Homo sapiens: one gene and its partners. The protein of the gene in region 2 interacts with the protein of the main gene of each other region in a biochemical or structural test. Each region holds a gene or a part of one and is shown on either strand. Other genes may lie near its edges.

Region 1 (6,869 bases), on a different chromosome or scaffold from region 2:
CTGGATCATGTGAGACAACACCGGGGGGCACTGGGGCCACAGCTGCTGCTCAACTGGGGAGTACAAATTGCCAAGGTGAGAGAAGCCTGGAGGAATTCTGTGATAAGAACTGCTTGTCTGGGGGCCAGCCAGGAAAAAGTGAGAAGGTTGAAGTTCTGAGAGGTGAGGTCCCCAACCCCCGGGCTGCAGACTGGTACCAGTCCATGGCCTGTTAGGAACCAGGCCACAGAGCATGTGAGCGGCAGGCAAGCGAGTGAAGCTTCATCTGTATTTACAGTCAGTCCCCATCACTTGCATTACCGCCCGAGTTCCGCCTCCTGTCAGATCAGGGGCAGCATTAGATTCTCTTAGGAGCTTGACTTCTATTGTGAACTGTGCATGTGAAGGATCTAGGTTGTGCACTCCTTATGAGAATCTAACTAATGCCTGATGATCTGAGGTGGAAAAATTTCATCCCAAAACCAACCCTCCCCTTCCCCTGGAAAAACTGTCTTCCACAAAACCAGTCCCTGGTGCCAAAAAAGGTTGGGGACCACTGCTGAGAGGTACCTTCAAGATTTGGGGGAATTCCAGATCTCAGTGACTGATTCCCCCAACCTTAAGAATACTTTCTTCCCCTATACCTACAGGGAATGTACTACCTTGAGGAACATGGTATGGTGCATAGAAACCTGGCTGCCCGAAACGTGCTACTCAAGTCACCCAGTCAGGTTCAGGTGGCAGATTTTGGTGTGGCTGACCTGCTGCCTCCTGATGATAAGCAGCTGCTATACAGTGAGGCCAAGGTGAGGAGACACAAAGGGTAAGGAGGCGGGGGTGGAGTGAAGCATGGGGATAGGGAGCAGCCAGTGGTCTCTTCCAGAGGCAAGCAGATGCTTCATGGTAAGTTCAAGGAGAGAAGGCTGCAGATGCCAGATATTTTAGTTCAGAGGGCAACAAATAAAATAATGATCAAGAACTTGGGACTGGCCGGGCGCGGTGGCTCACGCCTGTAATCCCAACACTTCGGGAGGCCAAGGCGGGTGGATCACAAGGTCAGGAGATCAAGACCATCCTGGCTAGCACGGTGAAACCCCGTCTCTACTAAATATACAAAAAAAAAAAAAATTAGCCAGGCGTGGCGGCATGCATCTGTACTCCCAGCTACTCGGGAGGCTGAGGCAGGAGAATGGCGTGAACCCAGGAGGCGGAGCTTGCAGTGGGCCGAGATCGCACCACTGCACTCCAGTCTGGGCGACAGAGCGAGACTCCGTCTCAAAAAAAAAAAAAAAAGAATTTGGGACTTGGAAATCCTAAGAAAATTTGTGGAAATAAACTTGTGATACCTCTATCTTTAATCCGCAGACTCCAATTAAGTGGATGGCCCTTGAGAGTATCCACTTTGGGAAATACACACACCAGAGTGATGTCTGGAGCTATGGTCAGTGCATCTGGATGCCCTCTCTACCATCACTGGCCCCAGTTTCAAATTTACCTTTTGAGACCCCCTCTTAGAATCTCTAAGCACTTCAGATTTTTGTGTTAGATCAGGTTCTGCCTTCCCTTCACTTCATGCCCATGTCTACTATTTTGCCAGTGACTAGTCCATGTCTTCCTGCAACAGGTGTGACAGTTTGGGAGTTGATGACCTTCGGGGCAGAGCCCTATGCAGGGCTACGATTGGCTGAAGTACCAGACCTGCTAGAGAAGGGGGAGCGGTTGGCACAGCCCCAGATCTGCACAATTGATGTCTACATGGTGATGGTCAAGTGTGAGTTACCTGCTGAGCCCAACCATTTTCTCTTTTTTTCTTTTTTTTTCTTTTTTTTTTTTTTTTGAGACAGAGTCTCACAATTGTCACCCAGGCTGGAGTGCAATGGTGCAATCAATCTTGGCTCACTACAACCTCCGCCTCTCGGGTTCAAGAGATTCTCCTGCTTCAGCCTCCGGAGTAGCTGGGATTACAGGCGCCCGCCACACCTGGATAACTGTTACACTTTTAGTAGAGATGGGGTTTCACCATGTTGGCCAGGCTGGTCTCAAACTCCTGACCTCAGGTGATCCGCCTGCCTCAGCTTCCCAAAGTGCTGGGATTACAGGTGTGAGCCATCATGCTCGGCCTGACTGCAGCCATTTTCTGACTTCCCTCTGTACTCCTCTTATGGCTCTATTCCTTTTTTTTTTATGGAGTCTCGCTCTGTTGCCCATACTGGAGTGCAGTAGCGTGACCTTGGCTCACCGTGACCTCCACGTTCCAGGTTTAAGTTCTTCTGTCTCAGCCTCCCAGATAGCTGGGACTTTAGGCGTGCACCACCACGCCCAGCTAATTTTTTTTTGTCTTTTTAGTAGAGATGGGGTTTCACTATGTTGGCCAGGCTGGTCTCAAAGTCCCGACCTCAGGTGATCCACCCGCCTTGGCCTCCCAAAGTGCTGGGATTATAGGTGTGAGCCACCGCGCCCGGCCATGGAATGTATTCTCTTTTATGTCTCTACCTCCTACATCTTATCTCCAGGTTGGATGATTGATGAGAACATTCGCCCAACCTTTAAAGAACTAGCCAATGAGTTCACCAGGATGGCCCGAGACCCACCACGGTATCTGGTCATAAAGGTGAGTAGGGAGTAGGAGGTGCTAAGGAAATTTAGAAAAAGGAGGAGTTGGCTGGAACCAGGATTCCCCCTAACAATCACCTATCGATATAGAGAGAGAGTGGGCCTGGAATAGCCCCTGGGCCAGAGCCCCATGGTCTGACAAACAAGAAGCTAGAGGAAGTAGAGCTGGAGCCAGAACTAGACCTAGACCTAGACTTGGAAGCAGAGGAGGACAACCTGGCAACCACCACACTGGGCTCCGCCCTCAGCCTACCAGTTGGAACACTTAATCGGCCACGTGGGGTAAGACAACTTCTAATTACCCAACACTTTGCACCCTGAGCCCTCACAAACCCTACAGATACCCAGATTAACTACTCAAAGGCCCCCATGGTGAATGTAGATTTCTCCCTTCATCTTAACCTTTTCCTTATTTTTTCATCCTAGAGCCAGAGCCTTTTAAGTCCATCATCTGGATACATGCCCATGAACCAGGGTAATCTTGGGGAGTCTTGCCAGGTAAGTTCTGTTGCTGAGAGGCTGGGTTTTAGGATCAGATTGATACGAGTAGTATGGAAGACATTAGAAACCTCTGAGGTTTAATCAGTGTCCTGCAAAAAAGAAGGCAGTGAGGGCCGGGCGAGTTGGCTCACACCTGTAATCCCAGCACTTTGGGAGGCCAGAGAGAGTGGATCACCTGAGGTTAGGAGTTTGAGACCAGCCTGGCCAACATGGTGAAACCCCGTCTCTACCCAAAATACAAAAATTAGCTGGGTGTGGTGGTGCACACCTGTAATCACAGCTACTCAGGAGGCTGAGACAGGAGAATCGCTTGAACCCGGGAGGCAGAGGTTGCAGTGAGCTGAGATTGTACCACTGCACTCCAGCCTGGGTGACAGAGCAAGACCCTGTCTCTTAAAAAAAAAAAAAAAAGGCCAGGTGCGGTGGCTCACGCCTGTAATCCTAGCACTTTGGGAGGCCGAGGTGGGCGGATCATGAGGTCAGGAGTTCGAGACCAGCCTGACCAACATGGCAAAACCCTGTCTGTACTAAAAATACAAAAACTAGCTGCACATGATGGCAGGTGCCTGTAATCCCAGCTACTCGGGAGGCTGAGGCAGGAGAATCACTTGAACAGGGAAGCAGAGGCTGCAGTGAGCCAAGATAATGCCACTGCACTCCAGCCTGGGCGACAAGAACAAGACTCCACCTCAAAAAAAAAAAAAAAAAAAAAAAAAGGCAGTGAACAACCCAATATCCTTCTAAACAAATCTCTCTTCTTTCCTCATCATGTAAATTTCCTTGCATTATTTTCTGTTTATTTTCTTCCTTAGGAGTCTGCAGTTTCTGGGAGCAGTGAACGGTGCCCCCGTCCAGTCTCTCTACACCCAATGCCACGGGGATGCCTGGCATCAGAGTCATCAGAGGGGCATGTAACAGGCTCTGAGGCTGAGCTCCAGGAGAAAGTGTCAATGTGTAGGAGCCGGAGCAGGAGCCGGAGCCCACGGCCACGCGGAGATAGCGCCTACCATTCCCAGCGCCACAGTCTGCTGACTCCTGTTACCCCACTCTCCCCACCCGGGTTAGAGGAAGAGGATGTCAACGGTTATGTCATGCCAGATACACACCTCAAAGGTGCCTGACTCTTCCTAGGGCTTTCCTCAATTTTTCCTCGAATTCTTTCCCCGGGCTCCTCTTTTTTCTTCTCTGATCATATGCCTCTCTGTCCTATTAATTTTTTCAAACTTTCCCCTACCCTCATGAAGTTCTTCACATACCTAGCCTTTCTTCTCAACCCCCAGGTACTCCCTCCTCCCGGGAAGGCACCCTTTCTTCAGTGGGTCTCAGTTCTGTCCTGGGTACTGAAGAAGAAGATGAAGATGAGGAGTATGAATACATGAACCGGAGGAGAAGGCACAGTCCACCTCATCCCCCTAGGCCAAGTTCCCTTGAGGAGCTGGGTTATGAGTACATGGATGTGGGGTCAGACCTCAGTGCCTCTCTGGGCAGCACACAGAGTTGCCCACTCCACCCTGTACCCATCATGCCCACTGCAGGCACAACTCCAGATGAAGACTATGAATATATGAATCGGCAACGAGATGGAGGTGGTCCTGGGGGTGATTATGCAGCCATGGGGGCCTGCCCAGCATCTGAGCAAGGGTATGAAGAGATGAGAGCTTTTCAGGGGCCTGGACATCAGGCCCCCCATGTCCATTATGCCCGCCTAAAAACTCTACGTAGCTTAGAGGCTACAGACTCTGCCTTTGATAACCCTGATTACTGGCATAGCAGGCTTTTCCCCAAGGCTAATGCCCAGAGAACGTAACTCCTGCTCCCTGTGGCACTCAGGGAGCATTTAATGGCAGCTAGTGCCTTTAGAGGGTACCGTCTTCTCCCTATTCCCTCTCTCTCCCAGGTCCCAGCCCCTTTTCCCCAGTCCCAGACAATTCCATTCAATCTTTGGAGGCTTTTAAACATTTTGACACAAAATTCTTATGGTATGTAGCCAGCTGTGCACTTTCTTCTCTTTCCCAACCCCAGGAAAGGTTTTCCTTATTTTGTGTGCTTTCCCAGTCCCATTCCTCAGCTTCTTCACAGGCACTCCTGGAGATATGAAGGATTACTCTCCATATCCCTTCCTCTCAGGCTCTTGACTACTTGGAACTAGGCTCTTATGTGTGCCTTTGTTTCCCATCAGACTGTCAAGAAGAGGAAAGGGAGGAAACCTAGCAGAGGAAAGTGTAATTTTGGTTTATGACTCTTAACCCCCTAGAAAGACAGAAGCTTAAAATCTGTGAAGAAAGAGGTTAGGAGTAGATATTGATTACTATCATAATTCAGCACTTAACTATGAGCCAGGCATCATACTAAACTTCACCTACATTATCTCACTTAGTCCTTTATCATCCTTAAAACAATTCTGTGACATACATATTATCTCATTTTACACAAAGGGAAGTCGGGCATGGTGGCTCATGCCTGTAATCTCAGCACTTTGGGAGGCTGAGGCAGAAGGATTACCTGAGGCAAGGAGTTTGAGACCAGCTTAGCCAACATAGTAAGACCCCCATCTCTTTAAAAAAAAAAAAAAAAAAAAAAAAAAAACTTTAGAACTGGGTGCAGTGGCTCATGCCTGTAATCCCAGCCAGCACTTTGGGAGGCTGAGATGGGAAGATCACTTGAGCCCAGAATTAGAGATAAGCCTATGGAAACATAGCAAGACACTGTCTCTACAGGGGAAAAAAAAAAAAGAAACTGAGCCTTAAAGAGATGAAATAAATTAAGCAGTAGATCCAGGATGCAAAATCCTCCCAATTCCTGTGCATGTGCTCTTATTGTAAGGTGCCAAGAAAAACTGATTTAAGTTACAGCCCTTGTTTAAGGGGCACTGTTTCTTGTTTTTGCACTGAATCAAGTCTAACCCCAACAGCCACATCCTCCTATACCTAGACATCTCATCTCAGGAAGTGGTGGTGGGGGTAGTCAGAAGGAAAAATAACTGGACATCTTTGTGTAAACCATAATCCACATGTGCCGTAAATGATCTTCACTCCTTATCCGAGGGCAAATTCACAAGGATCCCCAAGATCCACTTTTAGAAGCCATTCTCATCCAGCAGTGAGAAGCTTCCAGGTAGGACAGAAAAAAGATCCAGCTTCAGCTGCACACCTCTGTCCCCTTGGATGGGGAACTAAGGGAAAACGTCTGTTGTATCACTGAAGTTTTTTGTTTTGTTTTTATACGTGTCTGAATAAAAATGCCAAAGTTTTTTTTCAGCTTCCTGTCTGTCAAATGAAGACATTTCGTATGTTAGATAAGAGATCTGCTCCTCAGCAGTGGATACTCACCTTTCTGTGTTCTGACAGTGCTACTCTGTCCCATGCAGCTTTCTCTAGTCCTACTATTACTTCTATTTCTTTAGAACAACCATAGCGCATAGTCCTTTTCATTAAGGGTTTTAGTAGGAATCTACAAGGCAACCAATTGGGAATAACAAAAAGAACCTACGTGCTTTAGGACTTATAAAAAGCCCTATAAGCCCTCCTTCAGAGGCCAAACACTGAAACCTCCAGATGCTTCTGAATTCATTATCTTAGAAAAGTCATCAAATCTTTTTATTTTTTCACGGTAAGAACTCTCAACAAACATGTCTTTCTGAACACTTCCCTTAGGTGCTCCATCCAGGTGCCTGTTATTGGAACAATAAAGTCATGTTACTTCATTAGGAGTCCGGCCTCTAGATTGCGAGGCCTTTAAATGGATGATCCCTCCGGTGTCTGGCTGCCCAGTTAGCC
Region 2 (7,028 bases):
GAACCATCACCAATCCATCACAGCATTGCTGTCCACTGGGTCCAGACACAACCTCAGAGTCCTTTTTAACACAGTACTGCAGCACCCAGGCCCAATCTGTCAAGACAGACTTATAAGTTGAACAATATCTGCCACCTTGTGAGAGGTTATAAGACAAAGATAATAAGAACTTAATACTCGTAGACTTTTTTGTGTCTCAACATTGCTTCTTAATAATCATTACATTTGTGTTTCATTTGTTTAAGTGAGAACAATCCCTGTATAAAGCATTATCACATCAAGGAAACAAATGACAATCCTAAGCGATACTATGTGGCTGAAAAGTATGTGTTCGATTCCATCCCTCTTCTCATCAACTATCACCAACATAATGGAGGAGGTAAGCTCTAGAGCAGGGGTGGACCCGGGCCGCCCAGCAGGAGGTGAGCAGCAGGTGAGCAAGCATTACTGCCTGAGCTCTGCCTTCTGTCAGATCAGCGTCATTAGATTCTCATAAGAGTGCAAGCCCTATTGTGAACAGCACTTGTGGGATCTAGGTTGTGTGCTCCTTATAAGAATCAAATGCCTGATGATCTGAGATGGAACAGTTTCATCCTGAAAGCAACCCCCTGCCACATCCCTCCATGGATAAACTGTCTTCCACAAAGCCGATCCCTGGTGCCAAAAAGGTTGGGGACTGCTGCTCTAGAGGACAAAGCCAGAGGGCACCTGGGTTAGACTTTTTTGAATTGCTATCAAGGAATACCTGAGGCTGGGTAATTTATAAAGAAAAGAGGTTTAATTGGTCCATGGTTGTATAGGAAGCATGGTGCCGGCATCTTCTTGGCTTTTAGGGAGCCCTCAGGAAGCTTTCAGTCATGGCAGAAGGCAAAAGGGGAGCAGGAGTATCACATGGCAGGAGCAGGAGCGAGGAGGGAGAAGATGCCACAGACATTTAAACAACCAGGTCTTGCATGAACTCAGAGTGATAACTCATTTATTATCACAAGGACAGTGACAGCACCAAGGCATTTGTGATGGATCCCACCTAATGACCCAAACACCACCTCCCATCCCACCAGGCCCCACCTCCAACATAGGGCTTTTCTTTTCTTTTCTTTCTTTTCCTTTCTTTTCTTTTCTTTCTTTTTTTTTTTTTTGAGACAGAGTTTCGCTCTGTTGCCCAGGCTGGAGTGCAGTGGCTCAATCTTGGCTCACTGCAACCTCCACCTCCCAGGTTCAAGCAATTCTCCTGCCTCAGCCTCCTGATTAGCTGGGATTACAGGCATGTGCCACCACATCCCGCTAATTTTGGTATTTTTTGTAGAGACAGGGTTTCACCGCATTGGCCAGGCTGGTCTTGAACTCCTGACCTCAGGTAATCTGCCCGCCTCAGCCTCCCATACTGCTGGGATTACAGGTGTAAGCCACAGTGCCCAGCCAGGGATTACATTTCAACATGAGATTTGGAGGGGACAAACATCCAAACTATATCAGCACCCACACAGGAGACTTAATGAAAACTGGCAAAAGCTCGCCCTGGCTTCTTTTTGACTATAAATAATAAATAAATATACAAATAGAAAAATATGACAAATATTTAATTATATTATATATCTTCTATTAGCAAGCTATCTTGTGGAAATAATGGAATTTTACCACTTGCCCATCTGTGCTTATGATGTTTTCAAGGAGGATATGATATCAATAATTAGGCTTTGGGATTTGTTTTCCAGAATAAAATTAGCTTTTGCGTCTGATGATGATTATTATTTTTTTTAGTGATTTAAGTTAGATGGTTGCTAGAGCAAAGCCCTAACCACTGCTTCTTGGCTTTTCAATCAACCCAGGCCTGGTGACTCGACTCCGGTATCCAGTTTGTTTTGGGAGGCAGAAAGCCCCAGTTACAGCAGGGCTGAGATACGGTGAGCAGTACAATCAGGAATGTAAACTCATGTCCCTAAAGGTCTGGGGCAAATTCTGAATAAACTGGCCATGAGCCTACCTGTTCCTCAGACTACAAATCACCATTAAAACAAGTGTATTATATATCTAGAGATGATGGCACTAATGAATATTTACATTGTGTGTAAGAGAAGTACATATACAAGCACATTTCTCTAGGTCAAACCAGTGGCCATTGGTTTTAGTGAAGAGTTCATTAATGAAGTGTTTATTAAGCACCTACTTTGTACAGAGCACCCTACTAAATGCTATTAGAAAAATATTAGAAAACCATGCCTTAGCACTGTGTTTCCACCTATCTTCTAGAACTTTTATATCATCTAGTTGGTTGAGTAGCAGACTATTGCCAGAACTGCAAGTTGAGAGCATCTAGAAGTGTTTCTCTGCATAAGAGAGTGTTAAAATTCTTTGGAATACCTTTAGGCGTGGCATGATCTCCAGTGCCGCAGCCCCTACTATGTTTTCTTGCCCTACGGAATTGCTTCACTCACTTGGGATTACCTGCCTGGACTCTGAAGGCATTTGGCTTTGCATCCCTTGGTCCCAACTGTGTGCTGCCTGTGGAGAAGGCTGGTCTAATTTTCATTTCTTATCTCCTAGCTTGGTGGTTCTCAAATTTCAGTGTGCATCAAAGTCTTCTAGAATGCTTATTAAAAATGTTGACTCCTGGCTCCTATCCAAACACTCACCAAAACACAATCCTTGATAGGGTCCTGGAGTCTACTTTTTTTTCTGGCATGATCTCCCTCTGTCACCCAGGCTGGAGATGCAGTGGCGTAATCATGGCTCACTGCTGCCTTGACCTCCTGGGCTCAAGCGATCCTCCCACCTCAGCCTCCCAAGTAGCTACTATGCCTGGCTAATTTTTAAAAATTTTTTGTAGAGACAGGGTCTCACTATGTTGCCCTGGCTGGTCTTAAACTCCTGGGCTCAGGCAATCCTCCTGCCTCAGCCTCCCAAAGTGTTGGGATTACAGGCATGAGCCACTGTGCCCAGCTGAGTCTACATTTTAAACAAGCATGCTAGGTGATTTTGATACAAGTGGTCAGAGGGCAATACTTTGAGAACCACTGCCACGCATGGGCTTCTTTATCCCTAACCAGCACCGTGTCCGGCACACAGTAGGTGCTCAATACTGCCTGCTGTTGAGTCTCTGCCTCAAAGCAGTGGAAATCTGGCTGTTTAGGTACCAGACCAAGCACTGGGGAAAGAGTGCCTCTTTAGCCTCCTTATGAAAATAAGGGTATTCTAATAAATGTAGAATCTTGATGTGTCCGTGCTGGATGGGATTTCAGATATTACCTGGTCAGCCTACTCATTTTGTTGGTGAGGAAATTGAGCCTCGGAATCTCGTATTTGTTTGTTAAACATTTCTTGAGAGCCTCCCATGTGCCAGACACTGTGCTAGCTTGTGCCTCTGCACAAATTCTCTTTAAATCTTTCTCTTTAACTGCCCCTCTGCCCCAGTAAGGCCTAATAGGGTTATGTGTATATAGCAGGTGCTCTTAATAGATGAATGAATGAAAGAATGATCAGCTCAATGAAATTTACTTAGTGTGAAAAATGACATAGAAAAATGGGACATTGCAAGAACCCTTTCTTTAATATTTTGATTAATATGGTTTCTTTAATATCTTCATTAATGCCACTCTCCTTCTTTCCATGTTACCTTCCCACACATATTTTCATAGTTTTCTAGCATATCCTATGTTATTATGTGGGAAAAAGATAATTTATTTGCCATCTTTGAATTATATTAACAATAGGCTAAAATTCTAGTTAGGGCTTTATAGTCCCCTGGTATCCCAATACCTTATATCTACTGCTTGCTGACCCCAGAGAACTCTCTCTCTCTCTTCCAGGGAAATGGGTGATCGACCCCTCAGAGCTCACTTTTGTGCAAGAGATTGGCAGTGGGCAATTTGGGTTGGTGCATCTGGGCTACTGGCTCAACAAGGACAAGGTGGCTATCAAAACCATTCGGGAAGGGGCTATGTCAGAAGAGGACTTCATAGAGGAGGCTGAAGTAATGATGTGAGTGCTCAGAACAAGGATATGCAGAAACTCTGGGGGGAACATCGGTTCAGTGTTCTTGAAATGCCATTCAAACGCCAGGGGGTACTATCTCCCTGCGCAAACTCCCAGCAGTGGCTTCCTATTGCACAGAGAATACAATCAAACTCTTCACAGTGGTCTCCAAGGCCCACCATAATCTGATCATGCCCACCTCCCCCTTCTCAGCTCCTACCCATCTCTCCTCCAGTCCATGACATGCCAGCCACACTGGCCTCTGCTCATCTTCACACACACAGCTGACTCCTTGCCATTTTTCAGGTCTCAGCTCCAATGACATGTTTTTGTTTTGGGGAGGGAATGAATATTATTTTCATCCAAACCATAAATTAGACAAAATGACCATTGGCTATTTTGGTACCATAATATTTTCGGCATTTTTGGGAGACTGAGTTTAGGCCATCTCACCCCTTGTCTTTTTCCTCCAGGAAACTCTCTCATCCCAAACTGGTGCAGCTGTATGGGGTGTGCCTGGAGCAGGCCCCCATCTGCCTGGTGTTTGAGTTCATGGAGCACGGCTGCCTGTCAGATTATCTACGCACCCAGCGGGGACTTTTTGCTGCAGAGACCCTGCTGGGCATGTGTCTGGATGTGTGTGAGGGCATGGCCTACCTGGAAGAGGCATGTGTCATCCACAGAGACTTGGTATGAGCATGCAGGGTGAACACCCACAGGTCCAGGGTAAAGGGACAGTTCTCACTGAAATGACTGGGAACGCATTAATAAATAATACATTACAGATAATCTCCTTTCCTTTCTCAACTTCTCCCTTCCTTCACCTACTTTGGGTGGTCCTAGTGGAAAGGGCTTCATGAGGACTTACTTCTGGGCTCTGATCCCAGCCCAAACTCTTTCACCTCCTGCATTTCAGTTTATATTCTTCCAAAATGGAGATAACTGCCACTCCTTCTTAACCTCTCTGTGACTCAATTTCCTCCTGGTAAATTGAGGAAACTGAGTTTGTCTGAAGGTATTATTCAAGGGTCTACCAGAATCACACTGGGGAAGCCCTTAAGCTACTCTCAGAATCTCTGGTGGCTGGGACTCAGGAATATTCATTTTAACACATTCCCCGTATGATTTGTATGCACATTAAAATTTGAGATATGCAGCTGGGTGCGGTGGCTCATGCCTGTACTCCCAGCACTTTGGGAGGCCGAGGTGGGCGAATCACGAGGTCAGGAGTTCGAGACCACCCTGGCCAACATGGTGAAACCCCATCTCTACTGAAAATTCAAAAAATTAGCTGAGCTTACTGGCGGGCACCTGTAACCCTAGCTACTTGGGAGGCTGAGGCAGGAGAATCACTTGAACCCAGGAGGCAGAGGTTGCAGTGAGCTGAGATCAAGCCACTACACTCCAGCCTGGGTGACACAGTAAGACTCCATCTAAAAAAAAAAAAAAAAAAAAAATTGAGACACACTGGAGTGTTATCTCCAATGGCTTTTTCAATGCAACAGTCTATAATACTAATTAGGGGTCAGGTACTCTCCCTATTGAAGAACAGTTTTAAGAGGATTAACAACATCAAAACATTCTTAATTTAGTCAACTGGGAGATGCTTTCTTCCTGTTATCCCTGATGTTAACATTTCCTATCACATCAGGTTGCATTAGAGCCTATCTTTGGTTAGACAACACCAAGGATTTCTAATTAGAACTCAAGAATGAAGATAAACTTACTCATCTTGATAGTGGATCTTACACATTCAACTTTCCAGTTAACTTCCAGCGGCATTTGTGAGGCTTAATTAACATTTGTAAAGCTCCATGATGCCCTTGTATGACAGCACTGCAGTAAAGCAAAGGACTGTGATTATAGGAGACTCCTTAACTACTGATGACTCATCAACAGTTTTCCTCTCCGCCTTTGTTTGCCTGTCTCCTCTCCAGGCTGCCAGAAATTGTTTGGTGGGAGAAAACCAAGTCATCAAGGTGTCTGACTTTGGGATGACAAGGTAAAAGAGGGATGTGGTGCCGGTGAAGTCTCAGGAATGGGACTGAGGCCCCCGGAACATTCTGACCTTCTCCCTCCACTCTCTTCCCAGGTTCGTTCTGGATGATCAGTACACCAGTTCCACAGGCACCAAATTCCCGGTGAAGTGGGCATCCCCAGAGGTTTTCTCTTTCAGTCGCTATAGCAGCAAGTCCGATGTGTGGTCATTTGGTGAGTGTCATGCTGGGCCCCACTGCCCCATGATCTGGGCTTCAGGCCAGCTGTTTCCTTTATCAAATGCAGACAACCCTACCCACACTGAACCCTGTATCATATCATGAGGGTGTCCCACTGGAGGGTTGTGTAAGAAAGGCCCCGAAAACTATGAAAGGGCCTTCATCATTTTGTTTGTTTTTAGAGATACTGGACATGGTGGTGGGAGTTAATTAAAAGTGGAAACAAGAGTTCTGGTGCCAGCTGCTGTGAAGTCAAAAGCTGGAGAAGTCAGGAGATTCAAATATGAGCCCCTTGAAGGCAGGGACCATGTTTTGTCCAACACTACATTTCCATACTTATCTCTCAATAAGTATTAATATTTATTCATTCATTCAACAACAATTAACTGATCATCTATTCTATGCCAAGGGCTAATCTAGGTGCTGAGGATGCAGTGGTTCATAGAACAGAAAAGACTTCTGTTCTTTTGGAACTAAATTTGAGATGGGAGGGGAGACAGAAAATCACAAAAGATCATAATAACAGTCATAAACAATAATAATAATAAACAAGCTAAGGGATAGAAGATAAAGCCAGGCAATCATAAGTAGGTGCTATGAATAAAATAAAACAGTAATGGGGCAGAGTGACTAGGATAGAGAGAGGGTCTGCTTTGAATAGTGTGGTGTGGGAAGGCCTTTCTCAGAAGGTAATTCTTCAGCAGAGACTTGAATGATAGGAGGGAGCTGTCACCATTTGAAGAGCCAGGGAACAGTGTCCCTGACAGAGGGACCAGCAAGTGCAAAAACTTGGTGCATCCAAAGAACAAGGGGTACTGACTTATTGGGAGAACAACAGGC
Region 3 (6,538 bases), on a different chromosome or scaffold from region 2:
TGGTACGTGGTACACCAGTAAGGGGAGCCATCACCAGAGGTGCCACTGTGACTCGAGGCGTGCCACCCCCACCTACTGTGAGGGGTGCTCCAGCACCAAGAGCACGGACAGCGGGCATCCAGAGGATACCTTTGCCTCCACCTCCTGCACCAGAAACATATGAAGAATATGTAAGAAATTTGAACAATGTGCCATTTCCCAGTACCTAGAAGGCTGCTAAAGGAAGTTGAATGACAGGGCCTCGGTCCTTTATGTAGGTGTCATGGACTGCCTGTAAGATTTGCAATCTGCCCTCTTCTCTTGCAGTGAATGTTGAACTATTAGAAGATTTTTCCATTTTAGGCAGGGTTTTACTATACGCCTGTAGATTAAACAAGAAATAAAATGTACTTTAATGTAGTATTTTATAATGAATTTCTTACTACTAGTACTGATAATACTAAAGCTCGATTTTGTACTTTACTTCCTGCCCACACTTCTTCTGTGGCATATCATATTTGTTTGGGTTTTCTTTGTTTAGTAACCCTTTCTCTTTTGACTATTCTACAGTAGGCATTAACATTTTGGAGGGAAATGTCATGTCCTTTTAATTCAGAAGCCTACTTACTCCCATGGGATGTAATTACCTTTCCTACTCTCTATGATTTTGATCTTTTATTTCATTTTTTTGTTGTTGTTGTTCTAGGGATATGATGATACATACGCAGAACAAAGTTACGAAGGCTACGAAGGCTATTACAGCCAGAGTCAAGGGTGAGTCAGGCAGTATAAGCACTGTTTTTTGTCCTGAGGATGGATGGAGGGAGTTGGAGGAACAGAGAGATTTAGACAGTACAACCCTAAGGAGCAGAATGGTTCGCCTTTTGAGGGTATCTCCTCTGCAACCCCCACAGTCCTGACTGGTCTTGAACTCTTGAGCTCAAGCAGTCCTCCCACTTTAGCTCTCTCTAGTAGCTGGGGTTACAGGTGCGTGCCACCATGCAATGCTTTCCTCTGCGTTTGACATCTGTGAAGCACACACTTGGATTTGTAAATCTGGATAACTGTGAACCTTAAATTATAATTTAGAACCTGAGAGTAACAAATGAAAAATTTCCAAGCTGTGACTACATGGAAACAAGGAGAAATGCCTTTATGTTATTTTGATTTATTATTTTAAAATATCAAAACCACATTAAAGCTCCATAAAATTTTACAAGAAACTTGAATTCCATTACCATAACTTAGGTTCTTTTCTGCATTTCTCTTTAAGACCATTTCCTTGTGTGTCCATATATATAGCTTACCTGTGAATTGATTGAAAAAGAGTTCCAGAATTCTACAGCAGTGATAAAACAGTTCTTTTTTCCTTCTGGTGAGCCCTATGAATACATGTATATATATGCTATATTAAAAGGGTCAATTTAGGATTGTGCTTTTTCACTTTATATTCTGTGGTATCCATTTTTCTTTGCAATAGTTGTCAATTATTTTATAAGTACATAGTCTATACATATTTTGGAAATACTTTACGGTTTAGGGATGGGGCAGAATGAGTATTTTCCTGTATTAATACACTTAGTAAAATGACTGACTTATGGAAGTATTTGAGAGAAAGTTGAAACATAGTTACTCTGTAGCTTCCTAACACTCTGCCTTTGGCTTTCAGGGACTCAGAATATTATGACTATGGACATGGGGAGGTTCAAGATTCTTATGAAGCTTATGGTATGTCTTTATCTCTGTGGTGGGGCAGAATGTACAAGTAAGTGCCTGGGAGAATGCTGGTGACTAAAGTATTGAGAGTCAGACAAACACACCTACGGATAAACCTTTAGAAGGCCAAGATTTTGCTAGATGTGACAGTAAGAGTTCTGCTCTTGCTTAAATTTTGCGGTACATGGTAGAAAGAGGGACTGCTAAAGTGAGGTGGGGTATCGTTACTCTTGGAAGGGTAGTGTTTGTCTTAAACAAGGGCTCAAGACCAGCTTGGCCCTGGTTGGAGCAGCAGACTTATAAGCTAATGTTATTTTTTTTCTACTTTAGGCAGGGAAATAGCTAGACCTGGGTTGTATTTCTGGGCCTTTGCTGCCGATATCTAGGCCACTTTGGTAGATAACAAGAACTTAATCGTACACAACTGTACTCATCTACCCCATTTCATTAAAAAAAAAATTTAGATCTCATTGAAAAGAATGTCATTGTAAAGGAAATGTCAGCTGAAAGGGACCTAGATGGCAAGCAGCTAGCCAGACCAGGTTGCGGGGCAAGAATAGTGCCTATTAGGGCCGGGCGTGGTGGCTCATGCCTGTAATCCCAACACTTTGCGAGGCCGAGGCAGGCGGATCACCTGTGGTCAGGAGTTCGAGACCAGCCTGGCCAAGATGGTGAAACCCTGTCTCTACTAAAAATACAAAAAAATTAGCCAGGTGTGGTGGTGGGCGCCTTTAATCTCAGCTACTTGGGAGGCTGAGGCATGAGAATCACTTGAACCTGGGAGGCGGAGGTTGCAACGAGCTGAGACCGTGCCATTGCACTCCAGCCTGGGCAACAAAAGTCCGTCTCAAAAAAAAAAAATAGTGCCTATTAGAATCAGATTAGAGGCTGTAGGGGCTAGAGCCAATAATTCAGGACAGTACTGGCACCAAGCTCCTTGTTGGCTTGAAGACATCAACACAGTCCTTGATCCCAAGAGAGCTATGGAGGCTGCAACAGCAGCAGGACAAGGCTGCCTTCCCTGAGGTTTGGTTAAAAACACATCGCTCAAGTGTGTCCTCAAGAGCCAGTTATGGCCCTGTGTTAATAGGCCTCACTGGGAATACTATGTGGCAGTGGATGCAGCGAGAGCTACCTTTTCAGTATAAGGTATTTTCAGCATACCTGAGGGACTTCCAGAGAGTCCTTGGCAGGGGCTCAGCGATTGACAGTTCACGCTAAGATACTGGTTGACAGTCTCCCCTTATCCCTAGCTGAAAAAGAGGAGCCCCTTAGGGCCTCCCAGAGACAGACAAGCTGAGCCCAACTCAGCACAGTATGAAGTAGCCAATCAGCTGCTTGCCCAAGGAAACTGTTTTTACCAGTTTTAGCGAAATAGCACTGGACAGTTGCCAATCACTAACACTGTGTGTGATTGCACCCAAGTATTTCCCTCCATCAGTGAGGCAGTACAGTGGGGCCTCTGTATGTGTTTGACTAAATTGCATTTCTGTTTTGCTGGAGAAAAGACCAAACTGAAAGAGGCAGGCTTCTCTTTGTGCTCCTGATACGACGTTGCCACAGTTAATCCGTTCTGATCTCTGCTTTGATTAACAGAATTAGAGAAATAAACTGTCCAGGATGATCTGTATACGTCAGGAAAAAAAGAAAAAGAAACTGTCTTGTTGATACCCAGAAGCCACTTGGAAAGTGATGGACATGTGTGTTATACTAGGGGTATAATTAGGGTTCTGTGTGACTTTAGATCTGTATAGGAGTTTGAGGCCTATAGAGATGGAGGCAGATACTTGTGAATACAGGCAGCTGGAAAAATACTTCAGGGATGAACTAGCGTGTGTAAGGTGTGGGAAGAATAAATTTAACGCAATTTATTTTCATAAGAGGTCACCTCTAGAATTATGTGATCATATTCCTCAGGCTTTTCCCTGTCACAAAGGAGAACCATTTGAGGATGTGAACCACATTGTCTGGCTTCTGGCTTCTCTCACCTGTTGACTTAAGAAAGGAGATAAGGAATTATCCTTTTTTTTTTTTTTTTTTTTTTTTGAGATGGAGTCTGGCTCTGTTGTCCAGGCTGGAGTGGAGTGGCACAATCTCAGCTCACTGCAACCTCTGCCTCCCAGGTTCAAGCACTTCTCCTGCCTCAGCCTCCTGAGTAGCTGGGATTACAGGCATGCGCCACCACGCCTGGCTAATTTTTGTATTTTTAGTAGAGATGGGGTTTCACCCTGTTGGTCAGGCTGGTCTCGAACTCCTGACCTTGTGATCTGCCTGCCTTGGCCTCCCAAAGTGCTGGGATTACGGGCGTGAGCCACCGCATGCAGCCTTGGAATTATCTTAAACAGTGCTGTCAGTGCAACATTTGATTGCACATCCCTCTACCAGAGAGAGCAGTATCAGCTCTGCTGGTGGAGGGCCCCATGGAAAGTGGCCCTTGCTTGGTTTTCCCAGGGAGCTAGAGGACACTTCTCCGTAAGGAAACGTGACTTGCTGTTGCATGGAAGTGGGGCTGGCTGCCTGCTTCCAATCTGAAAGACTTCCAGAAGTCTTCCCACCTTACCTGAGGGTGCCTGCCAAATTGTTTTGGGAACAGGAAAGGCCATTGCAGACTCACTAAGATTAATGAGTTCCTCACTATCTCAAGCAAGGTGTTGGGTATCTCCAGGTTTGGGGACTGGCGTACAGATCACATTTGTCTATGAAGAACCTCGTTGTGGGAGATTACTCCAGAGTCAATGGCAGCCTTTTTAGATTTGTTCCCTTCTGTCCTTCCACTCAAAACTGAAAAATTGCCCAGGCTGCCCAAGAGGGCCAAGCCAAGTAGAGAGCAAGGAACACCAGGGGAAGTGTCAAGACATTAGAAGAAACTCAGTGTTTTTGGTGATCTTTACTATGTGACCTATCCCTGCTTATCCCTAAGTGCTGTCGCCACATGGTTTATAAACTGTCTTTGTTTTCCCCACAGGCCAGGACGACTGGAATGGGACCAGGCCGTCGCTGAAGGCCCCTCCTGCTAGGCCAGTGAAGGGAGCATACAGAGAGCACCCATATGGACGTTATTAAAAACAAACATGAGGGGAAAATATCAGTTATGAGCAAAGTTGTTACTGATTTCTTGTATCTCCCAGGATTCCTGTTGCTTTACCCACAACAGACAAGTAATTGTCTAAGTGTTTTTCTTCGTGGTCCCCTTCTTCTCCCCACCTTATTCCATTCTTAACTCTGCATTCTGGCTTCTGTATGTAGTATTTTAAAATGAGTTAAAATAGATTTAGGAATATTGAATTAATTTTTTAAGTGTGTAGATGCTTTTTTCTTTGTTGTTTAAATATAAACAGAAGTGTACCTTTTATAATAAAAAAAAGAAGTTGAGTAAAAAAAAAAAACACACAAACCTGTTAGTTTCAAAAATGACATTGCTTGCTTAAAGGTTCTGAAGTAAAGGCTTGTTAAGTTTCTCTTAGTTTTGATTTGAGGCATCCCGTAAAGTTGTAGTTGCAGAATCCCAAACTAGGCTACATTTCAAAATTCAGGGCTGTTTAAGATTTAAAATCACAAACATTAACGGCAGTAGGCACCACCATGTAAAAGTGAGCTCAGACGTCTCTAAAAAATGTTTCCTTTATAAAAGCACATGGCGGTTGAATCTTAAGGTTAAATTTTAATATGAAAGATCCTCATGAATTAAATAGTTGATGCAATTTTTAACGTTAATTGATATAAAAAAAAAAACAACAAAATTAGGCTTGTAAAACTGACTTTTTCATTACGTGGGTTTTGAAATCTAGCCCCAGACATACTGTGTTGAGAGATACTTAGAGGGAGGGAGTAGGTTTTGAAGAGGTTGATGGTGGTGGGGAGGGAAGGCCTCCTGAATTGAGTTTGATGCAGAGCTTTTTAGCCATGAAGAATCTTTCAGTCATAGTACTAATAATTAAATTTTCAGTATTTAAAAAGACAAAGTATTTTGTCCATTTGAGATTCTGCACTCCATGAAAAGTTCACTTGGACGCTGGGGCCAAAAGCTGTTGATTTTCTTAAGTTGACGGTTGTCAATATATCGAACTGTTCCCAAGTTAGTCAAGTATGTCTCAACACTAGCATGATATAAAAAGGGACACTGCAGCTGAATGAAAAAGGAATCAAAATCCACTTTGTACATAAGTTAAAGTCCTAATTGGATTTGTACCGTCCTCCCATTTTGTTCTCGGAAGATTAAATGCTACATGTGTAAGTCTGCCTAAATAGGTAGCTTAAACTTATGTCAAAATGTCTGCAGCAGTTTGTCAATAAAGTTTAGTCCTTTTTTAATCAAAGTAAATGTGATGAATTGTCATTTTTTTGGGTGGACCATAAAATAGTTTTCTCTTTCAAATAAACTTAAATTAACTCTAAAGTTAATGGGCTTGTTAAAAGTTGGAAACATTCTTAAAAGTGGTGGGGGGGATTTTATTTTAAGTTTACCAAAAAAAAGTTGATGGAGTTGTTAAGTTTTAGTTTAAAAATAACCAAAGCTTTTTCACCCCCTGGAAGTTGTTGGAAGCTGTTGTATCCAATCCTATCAAAAATTCTAATTTATGGAGAGTTTTCAACTCAACTGAGCTGAAACTTGGATTGGTTTCCATAGATAGGTCTCAGTATTTAAAAGTGCAAGCCAGCCTGGTTTGCACCTTCTGTAGAACCCCTAGGTGGCTCTAAAGTGTGACACCAAATAATTTCTGTGAGCTCAGAAGGGGACAGCATCTGCCTTTAGGCATGACAGTTCAGCCAACTCTGGGTGCCCTTGAGGGTTTCTCTTTCAATCCCAGAAATGCTGATAACTCAGCTGGGCTGGGGCAGGATT
Region 4 (7,028 bases), on a different chromosome or scaffold from region 2:
CATAAAAATCACTGGGAGATCTTTTTAAAATTAGGTTCTGGTAGAACTCCAGGATGTACCCCACAGTGAATCAGTCTCTGAATGGGTGGATTTTGATACAGATGGTCTAAGGATCAAAACTGTTGTTACCAAATGCAGCCATAAATAATAAGACTGCTGTGTGGCTTTAAGTAATTCAACTTAAAATTACATTTTTCTGTGTATACACAAAGTCAGTATTTAGAATAGCCTAATGGAATGAGTGACTATAAGCATGATTCATTTTTACATGTGTAAATTTTTTAGCATTCTTAATACTGTGATGTGGAGTGATTTAACTTGAAATTTATACTTAATAGGGTCATTAATTTGCCTACCAGAGAATTCTTCTGAGTCTGTAGACTCAGACGAAAGATTTTTCAGCTTTACAGTGGTGTGAAAGCAATAGCGCTCAGTAAAAACTATACTTCCAGTACCCATATAACTGTTTTGTTTTTCACTCTCAGTACCATAGTCAGTAAATTACAGGAGATATTCATCACTTTGTTATAAAATGGGCTTTGTGTTAGATGATTTTGCTTAACTGTAGGCTAATGTGTTTGGAGCACATTTAAGGTAAGGTAGGCTAGGCTAAGCTGTGGTGTTTGGTAGGTTAGGTGTATTAAAATGCATTTCCATGTAACAATATTTTCAACTGATGATGGTTTCATCAGGATATCTGCCTATGCAGATGGAAGCTCCACATTTACTCTTAGAACATGTAGGCTAGTATTTGAAAAGAGACTGAAAATACTAGTTAAGGTCTCTGGCTTATACTACATTATAATAATAAAATCATCACAGCCCACACTATAGTGGATAATTAGTTAGCTCAGTCTTTTGGAGAGAGCCAGAGACTTCTGCCAAGCATTTTACAACCATTATCTCTTTTAATTATCAAAATGACTTTATAAGGTAGTTGGCTGTTATTATTCCCATTTTCCAGTTAAGGGATACTAGGGATTACAGAGTATAAGTTACTTCTCCAGTGTCCCCTCATTAGTAAGTGGAAAGTGACATTTGAATCCAAGTCTAACTCCAGAGCGTCAGTAAGCTTTTTGGTTTGTGTTGTAACTACAAAAGTAACACATGCCTATTGTAAAAATAATGAAAATACAATTGAGGTGTATCATGCAGAAAGTAAAAGTGTTCTGTGATCTCGCTAGCAGAGATAACCATTGTTAGCCTTTTTTTTTTTTTTTTTTTTTTGAGACGGAGTCTCGCTCTGTCGCCCAGGCCGGACTGCGGACTGCAGTGGCGCAATCTCGGCTCACTGCAAGCTCCGCTTCCCGGGTTCACGCCATTCTCCTGCCTCAGCCTCCCGAGTAGCTGGGACTACAGGCGCCCGCCACCGCGCCCGGCTAATTTTTTGTATTTTTAGTAGAGACGGGGTTTCACCTTGTTAGCCAGGATGGTCTCGATCTCCTGACCTCGTGATCCACCCGCCTCGGCCTCCCAAAGTGCTGGGATTACAGGCGTGAGCCACTGCGCCCGGCCTAGCCTTTTTTTTTAAGCACATACTGATGTATTATTTTGCCTTACAGAAATAGGATAAACTATAATTTTTCTGCAGCTTTAAAAATTTGAGGAGAATGGCTTGAACCCGGGAGGTGGAGGTTGCTTTGAGCAGAGATCATACCACTGCACTCTAGCCTGGGCGACAGAGCAAGACTCCGTCTCAAAAAAAAAAAAAAATTGATATATCCTGGTATTTATGTAGATACTCCATACACAAGCTCATGGATATTGATCAAGGGTGTGGGTGTATATGTGTATGTTGCACATTGTATTTTGTCTCATTGTTTCAGTGAGATAAATCTGGGAAGTGGAATTGCTTGGTCAAGAGTATGTATTGGTCAGGCACAGTAGCTCACGCCTGTCACCCTGGAACTTTGGGAGGCCGAGGTGGGCGGATCACTTGAGGTTGGAGACCAGCCTGGCCAACATGGTGAAACCTCGTCTTTATTTGAAAATACAAACATTAAAAACACACACAAACACACAAAAAAAGAAAATTCAAAAATTAGGTGGTGGTGACACGCCTGGAATCCCAGCTACTTGGGAGGCTGAGGCAAGGAGAATCGCTTGAACGCAGGAGGTGGAGGTTACAGTGAGATGAGATCACACCACTGCATTCCAGCCTGGGCAACAGAGCGAGACTCTGTCTCAGAAAGAAAAAAGGAGCATGAGGCTGGGTATGGTGGTATGCATGTAATCCCAGCACTTTGGGAGGCCAAGGCTGGTGGATTGCCTGAAGTCAGGAGTTTGAGACCAGCCTGGCCAACCTAGTGAAAGCCCATCTCTACTAACAGTACAAAAATTAGCCAGGCATGGTGGTGCACGCCTATAGTCCCAGTTACTTGGGAGGCTGAGGCAGGGGAATTGCTGGAACTCAGGAGGCGGAGATTGCAGTGAGCTGAGATCGTGCCATTGCACTTCAGCCTGGGTGACAGAGCAAGACTCCATCTCAAAAAAAGGAGTATGTATTTACAAAAATTAGCCAGGTGTGGTGGCACACACCTGTAGTCCCAGCTACTTGGGAAGCTGAGGCGGGAGGATGGCCTGAGCCTGGGAGGTCAAGGCTGCAGTGAGCCAAGATGGCACCCACTGCACTCCAGACTGGGTGACAGAGCAAGACCCTGTCTCAAAAAAAAAAAGAGTATGTATTAATATTTCAAAATTGTCGGTCAGGGCCGGGCACGGTGGCTCATGCCTGTAATCCCAGCACTTTGGGAGGCTGAGGCAGGCGGATCACGAGGTCAGGAGATCGAGACCATCCTGGCTAACATGGTGAAACCATGTCTCTACTAAAAATACAAAAAAATAAGCCGGGTGTGGTGGTGGGCACCTATAGTCCCAGCCACTCGGGAGGCTGAGGCAGGAGAATGGCATGAACCTGGGAGACGGAGCTTGCAGCGAGCCAAGATTGCGTCACTACACCAGCCTGGGCGACAGAGCGAGACTCTGTCTCAAAAAAATAAATAAATAATTGTTGGTCGGGCGCGGTGGCTCACGGCCTGTAATCCCAGCACTTTGGGAGGCCAAGGCGGGTGGATCACGAGGTCAGGAGTTCAAGACCAGCCTGACCAACATGGTGAAACCCTGCCTCTACTAAAAATACAAAAGTTAGTCAGTCGTGGTGGTGGGGGCATGTAATCCCAGCTACTTGGGAGGCTGAGGCAGGAGAATGGCTTGAATCCAGGAGACAGAGGTTGTGGTGAGCCAAGATCGTGCCACTGCATTCCAGCCTGGGTGACAAAGCGAGACTCCATCTCAAAAAAAAAAAAAAAAAAGAAAAGATTGTCAAGGCCAGGTGTGGTGGCTCACCCCTGTAATCCCAGCACTTGGAAAGGCTGAGATGGGGAGGATCACGTGAGTCCAGGAGTTTGAGATCAGCTTGGGCAACATGGTGAGTCCTGGTCACCACACACACACACACACAAAAATTAGCCAGGCATGGTGGTGTGCACCTGTAGTCCCAGCTACTTGGGAGGCTAAGGCAGGAGGATGGCTTGAGCCAAGGAGTTTGAGGCTGAAGTGAACCATGATTGCTCCACTGCACTTCAGCCTGGGCAATAGAGCGAGACTCTGTCTCAAATAATAAAAGTAAATAGGCTGGGCGCAGTGGCTCACGCCTGTAATCCCAGCACTTTGGGAGGGCAAAGTGGGCGGATCACCTGAGGTCGGGAGTTCAAGACCATCCTGGGCAACATGGCGAAATCCTGTCTCTATTAAAAATAGAAAAATCAGCTGGTCATGGTTACAGGCACCTGTAATCCCAGCTACTTGGGAGGCTGAGGCAGGAGAATCGCTTGAACCCAGGAGGTGGAGGTTGCAGTGAGCGGAGATCACGCCACTGCACTCCAGCCTGAGGGATAGAGCAAGACTCTGTCTCCAAAAAATAAATAAAAATAAATAAAAGTTGTCAATAGATTACCAAAGAACTCACCAAAAAGATTGAGCTGAGCTCATTAATTCCTTGCTGTAGTGTGGGTTCTGTGGTGATTTTATTATTATAATGTAACACCAAGCCACATTGTCAGTTAGTAACTTCTCAAAATGTTGAGTCAGTGGACACCGGGTAGGGTAAAAAGTCTTTGTGCCTGGTGCGGTGGCTCATACCTGTAATCCCAGCACTTTGGGAGGCCAAGGCAGGCAGATCTGTTGAGCTTAGGAGTTTGAGACCAGCCTGGGCAGCATAGGGAGACCCCATCTCTACAAAAAAAAATGAGTAGGCTATGGTGGCTGGTGCCTGTAGTCCCCACTAAGGAGGCTGAGGTGAGAGGATCCCTTGAGCCCAGGAGGCGGAGGTTGCAGTAAACCAAGATCACGCCACTGCCCTCCAGCCTTTGCTACAGAGTGAGACCCTTTCTGAAAAATAAATAAATAAATAAAAGTGTGTTTACTCAAAGTATTGCAGATTGGATTTTATAAATATTTTTAAAATTTGCCAATTAGTATATGAAAACTCTGATTGTTTTAATTTGCATTTCTTTTCATATGTTTTAAATAGAGTAACATTTAAAATTTCTTTTGAAGGCTGGGTGCAGTGGCTCATGCCTGTAATCCCAGCACTTTGGGAGGCTGAGGTGGGAGTTTGAGACCAGCCTGGCCAACATGGCGAAACCCCATCTCTACTAAAAATGCAAAAGTTAGCCAGGCTTGGTGGCGCGCACCTGTAGTCCCAGCTACTTGGGAGGTCGAGGCAGGAGAATTGCTTGATCCTAGGAGGCGGAGGTTGCAGTGACCTGAGATCGTGACACTGCAGTCCAGCCTGGGCGACAGAGCTAGATGCTGTCTCAAAAAATAAATAAATAAATAAATAAATAAATAAATAAATAAATTTTGAGTGATTATTACATGTCGGGCTCTATCCAGAGCACTTAATGTATGTTATATATGTTGTCTAATTTAATCCTCAGTGGATCTTATAAGGTAGATATTCTCATTTTACAGATGAGAAAACTGGAGCTTGTTTCACAACTTTGCCCACAACTGTAGCTGTAAGTGTGAGGGGCCTGCCTCTAGAGACCATGAAGATTCAACACTAAGCTATACTGGACTGTTGTCATGTATTTTATTTTCTGTGAATTTTGGGAAGAAGAGAGTTAAATGGAAGAAAGAAAAAAAATCTTGCAAATACCTTTAGGATAGTAGTTTTTTTGGATACAGTAGACATTGTTTGAAATGAATGATTAAAGCTGTACTTACCTTTCTTAAAATTCACTGCTTGGGATGGGCTGGTAACAGTTTCGAGGTTACTCTCATTAGGCTTCAGTGTTAAGTACACTATACCCCATTTTCTTGGGAAGTGAACAGCAACATCTACTCTGTTAAAATCATTATACATTGTGTCTGCTTTCAGATTTCTTCCTTTTAGTAATTAGTGTTGTGTATGTGTTAGATTTTTTTTTGTCTTTACTGAAACACACCCTTTGGAATTCCTTTAGCGAATATGCTCTTTTGGGTGGATAACCTAATAAGCTTTCCTCTTTGAGTTTTCTGTTTTTTTACTCAGCACAGCCATGGAAGTAGGGATTTAATTTTCTGTCAAACTCTGCATCTCACAAAGCAATAGTTACTCAAAACACGACTTTCAAGAAGGTTATTCTTTTTAAGCTTTCAGCAGATGAGCTGAGTAGCAGCAGGAAAGCAGGTATTGAGAACTGTCTTGGTTTTTGTACTGCTGTTGAGTAGTAACATTGCAGCTGTCTTAAATCCTGAATGACACAGAAGCTTATGGCTGGTCGTACTACATAGCACCTTGAAAGTGACAGGGCTTTTCATTTCTATCTGATTTCTGTTTTTCAAAAATAAAACTCCTTATTCTTTTCCTATCATTGTAAATATTCTTCAGCTTCCTATCACTAATACATAGTCTCGGCATTAGAGACCAGTTAAAATAAATAGGCTGAGGAAAATCTTGATAGTAGGAGAGATTTTGGAGCATTCATTAAAAGTAAAAATAGGGCTGGGCGTGGTGGCTCACTCTCCCCTGTATTCCTAGCACTTTGGGAGGCCGAGGCAGGCAGATTGCTTGAGGCCAGGAGTTTGAGACCAGCCTGGGTCTTAAAAGGTAGATATTATTCTCATTTTACAGATGACGAAACTGGAGCTTGTTTGAAAAGTTTGCCCAAAATTGTAGCAGTTAGCGTGAGGGGCCTGCCTCTAGAGACCATGCAAATTCAACACTAAGCTATACTGGACTGGTCTCACATAGTGAGACCCTGTCTCTACAAAAAATAGAAAAAGTAGCCGGGCATAGTGGCCCACACCTGTAGTTCCAGCTACTTGGGAAGCTGAGGCATGAGGATTACTTGAGCCAAGGAGATCAAGGATGCAGTAAGCCATGACCATGCCACTGCACTCGTGCCTGGACAACAGTGCAAGACCCTGTCTCAAAAAAAAAGAGAAAAGAAAAAGTAAAAGTAGATACACAGGGAACTAGGCAAGTAAAAAATAGAACATTAAGCAGTTGCTAATGCTGGGAAAAATCTAAGGATTGTACAAAAAAGTATGATTGGGTCAGGCACAGCGGCCGATGCCTGTAATCCCAGCACTTGGGGAGGCCAAAGTGGGCGGATCACTTGAGGCCAGGAGTTCAAGACCAGCCTGGCCAACATGGTGAAATCCCGTCTCTACTAAAAATATAAAAAGTAGCCAGGCTTGTTGGCACATGCCTGTAGTCCCAGCTACAGGCCGAGGTAGGAGGATCGCTTGAACCTGGGAGGTGGAGGTTGCAATGAGCCGAGATCATGCCACTGCACTCTAGCCTGGGCAATCTTAGAGAACTCTATCTCAAAAAAGAAAAAAAAAAAAACACAAAAAGTATGATTGGTTTTAGTGCATTATTTAAATTATCAGTGAGTAGTATTTCATAACATACTACTGATTAAACCAGAATATGTGATATTACTGGTATAGGTCGGGGGAAACTAAATCTTCACCTTTCAGGCAATAGATAATGGCTGGAATAAACTGAGAAAGCAGTAAAAGCACATTCTTTAGAA

The links.
Region 1: the proteins of ITK (region 2) and ERBB3 form a complex in vitro, tested with the Homo sapiens proteins (2 studies listed by BioGRID and IntAct, with this or other methods).
Region 3: the proteins of ITK (region 2) and KHDRBS1 form a complex in vitro, tested with the Homo sapiens proteins (4 studies listed by BioGRID, with this or other methods).
Region 4: the proteins of ITK (region 2) and GRB2 form a complex in vitro, tested with the Homo sapiens proteins (2 studies listed by BioGRID).

What each region holds. Positions count from the first base shown.
Region 1 is NC_000012.12:56,097,156-56,104,024, forward strand, and holds the end of ERBB3 (receptor tyrosine-protein kinase erbB-3 isoform 1 precursor), read left to right. Parts: coding exon 1-75; intron 76-629; coding exon 630-785; intron 786-1,344; coding exon 1,345-1,420; intron 1,421-1,603; coding exon 1,604-1,750; intron 1,751-2,492; coding exon 2,493-2,590; intron 2,591-2,682; coding exon 2,683-2,874; intron 2,875-3,018; coding exon 3,019-3,090; intron 3,091-3,905; coding exon 3,906-4,206; intron 4,207-4,373; coding exon 4,374-4,900; 3' UTR 4,901-6,350; downstream 6,351-6,869. UniProt on the Homo sapiens protein: Tyrosine-protein kinase that plays an essential role as cell surface receptor for neuregulins.
Region 2 is NC_000005.10:157,239,817-157,246,844, forward strand, and holds part of ITK (tyrosine-protein kinase ITK/TSK), read left to right. Parts: intron 1-245; coding exon 246-379; intron 380-1,829; coding exon 1,830-1,904; intron 1,905-3,806; coding exon 3,807-3,978; intron 3,979-4,445; coding exon 4,446-4,662; intron 4,663-5,909; coding exon 5,910-5,974; intron 5,975-6,064; coding exon 6,065-6,183; intron 6,184-7,028. UniProt on the Homo sapiens protein: Tyrosine kinase that plays an essential role in regulation of the adaptive immune response. Regulates the development, function and differentiation of conventional T-cells and nonconventional NKT-cells.
Region 3 is NC_000001.11:32,037,867-32,044,404, forward strand, and holds the end of KHDRBS1 (KH domain-containing, RNA-binding, signal transduction-associated protein 1), read left to right. Parts: coding exon 1-170; exon of another isoform or gene 171-253; intron 254-685; coding exon 686-753; intron 754-1,648; coding exon 1,649-1,707; intron 1,708-4,660; coding exon 4,661-4,758; 3' UTR 4,759-6,011; downstream 6,012-6,538. UniProt on the Homo sapiens protein: Recruited and tyrosine phosphorylated by several receptor systems, for example the T-cell, leptin and insulin receptors. Once phosphorylated, functions as an adapter protein in signal transduction cascades by binding to SH2 and SH3 domain-containing proteins.
Region 4 is NC_000017.11:75,395,651-75,402,678, reverse strand, and holds part of GRB2 (growth factor receptor-bound protein 2), read left to right. Parts: intron 1-7,028. UniProt on the Homo sapiens protein: Non-enzymatic adapter protein that plays a pivotal role in precisely regulated signaling cascades from cell surface receptors to cellular responses, including signaling transduction and gene expression.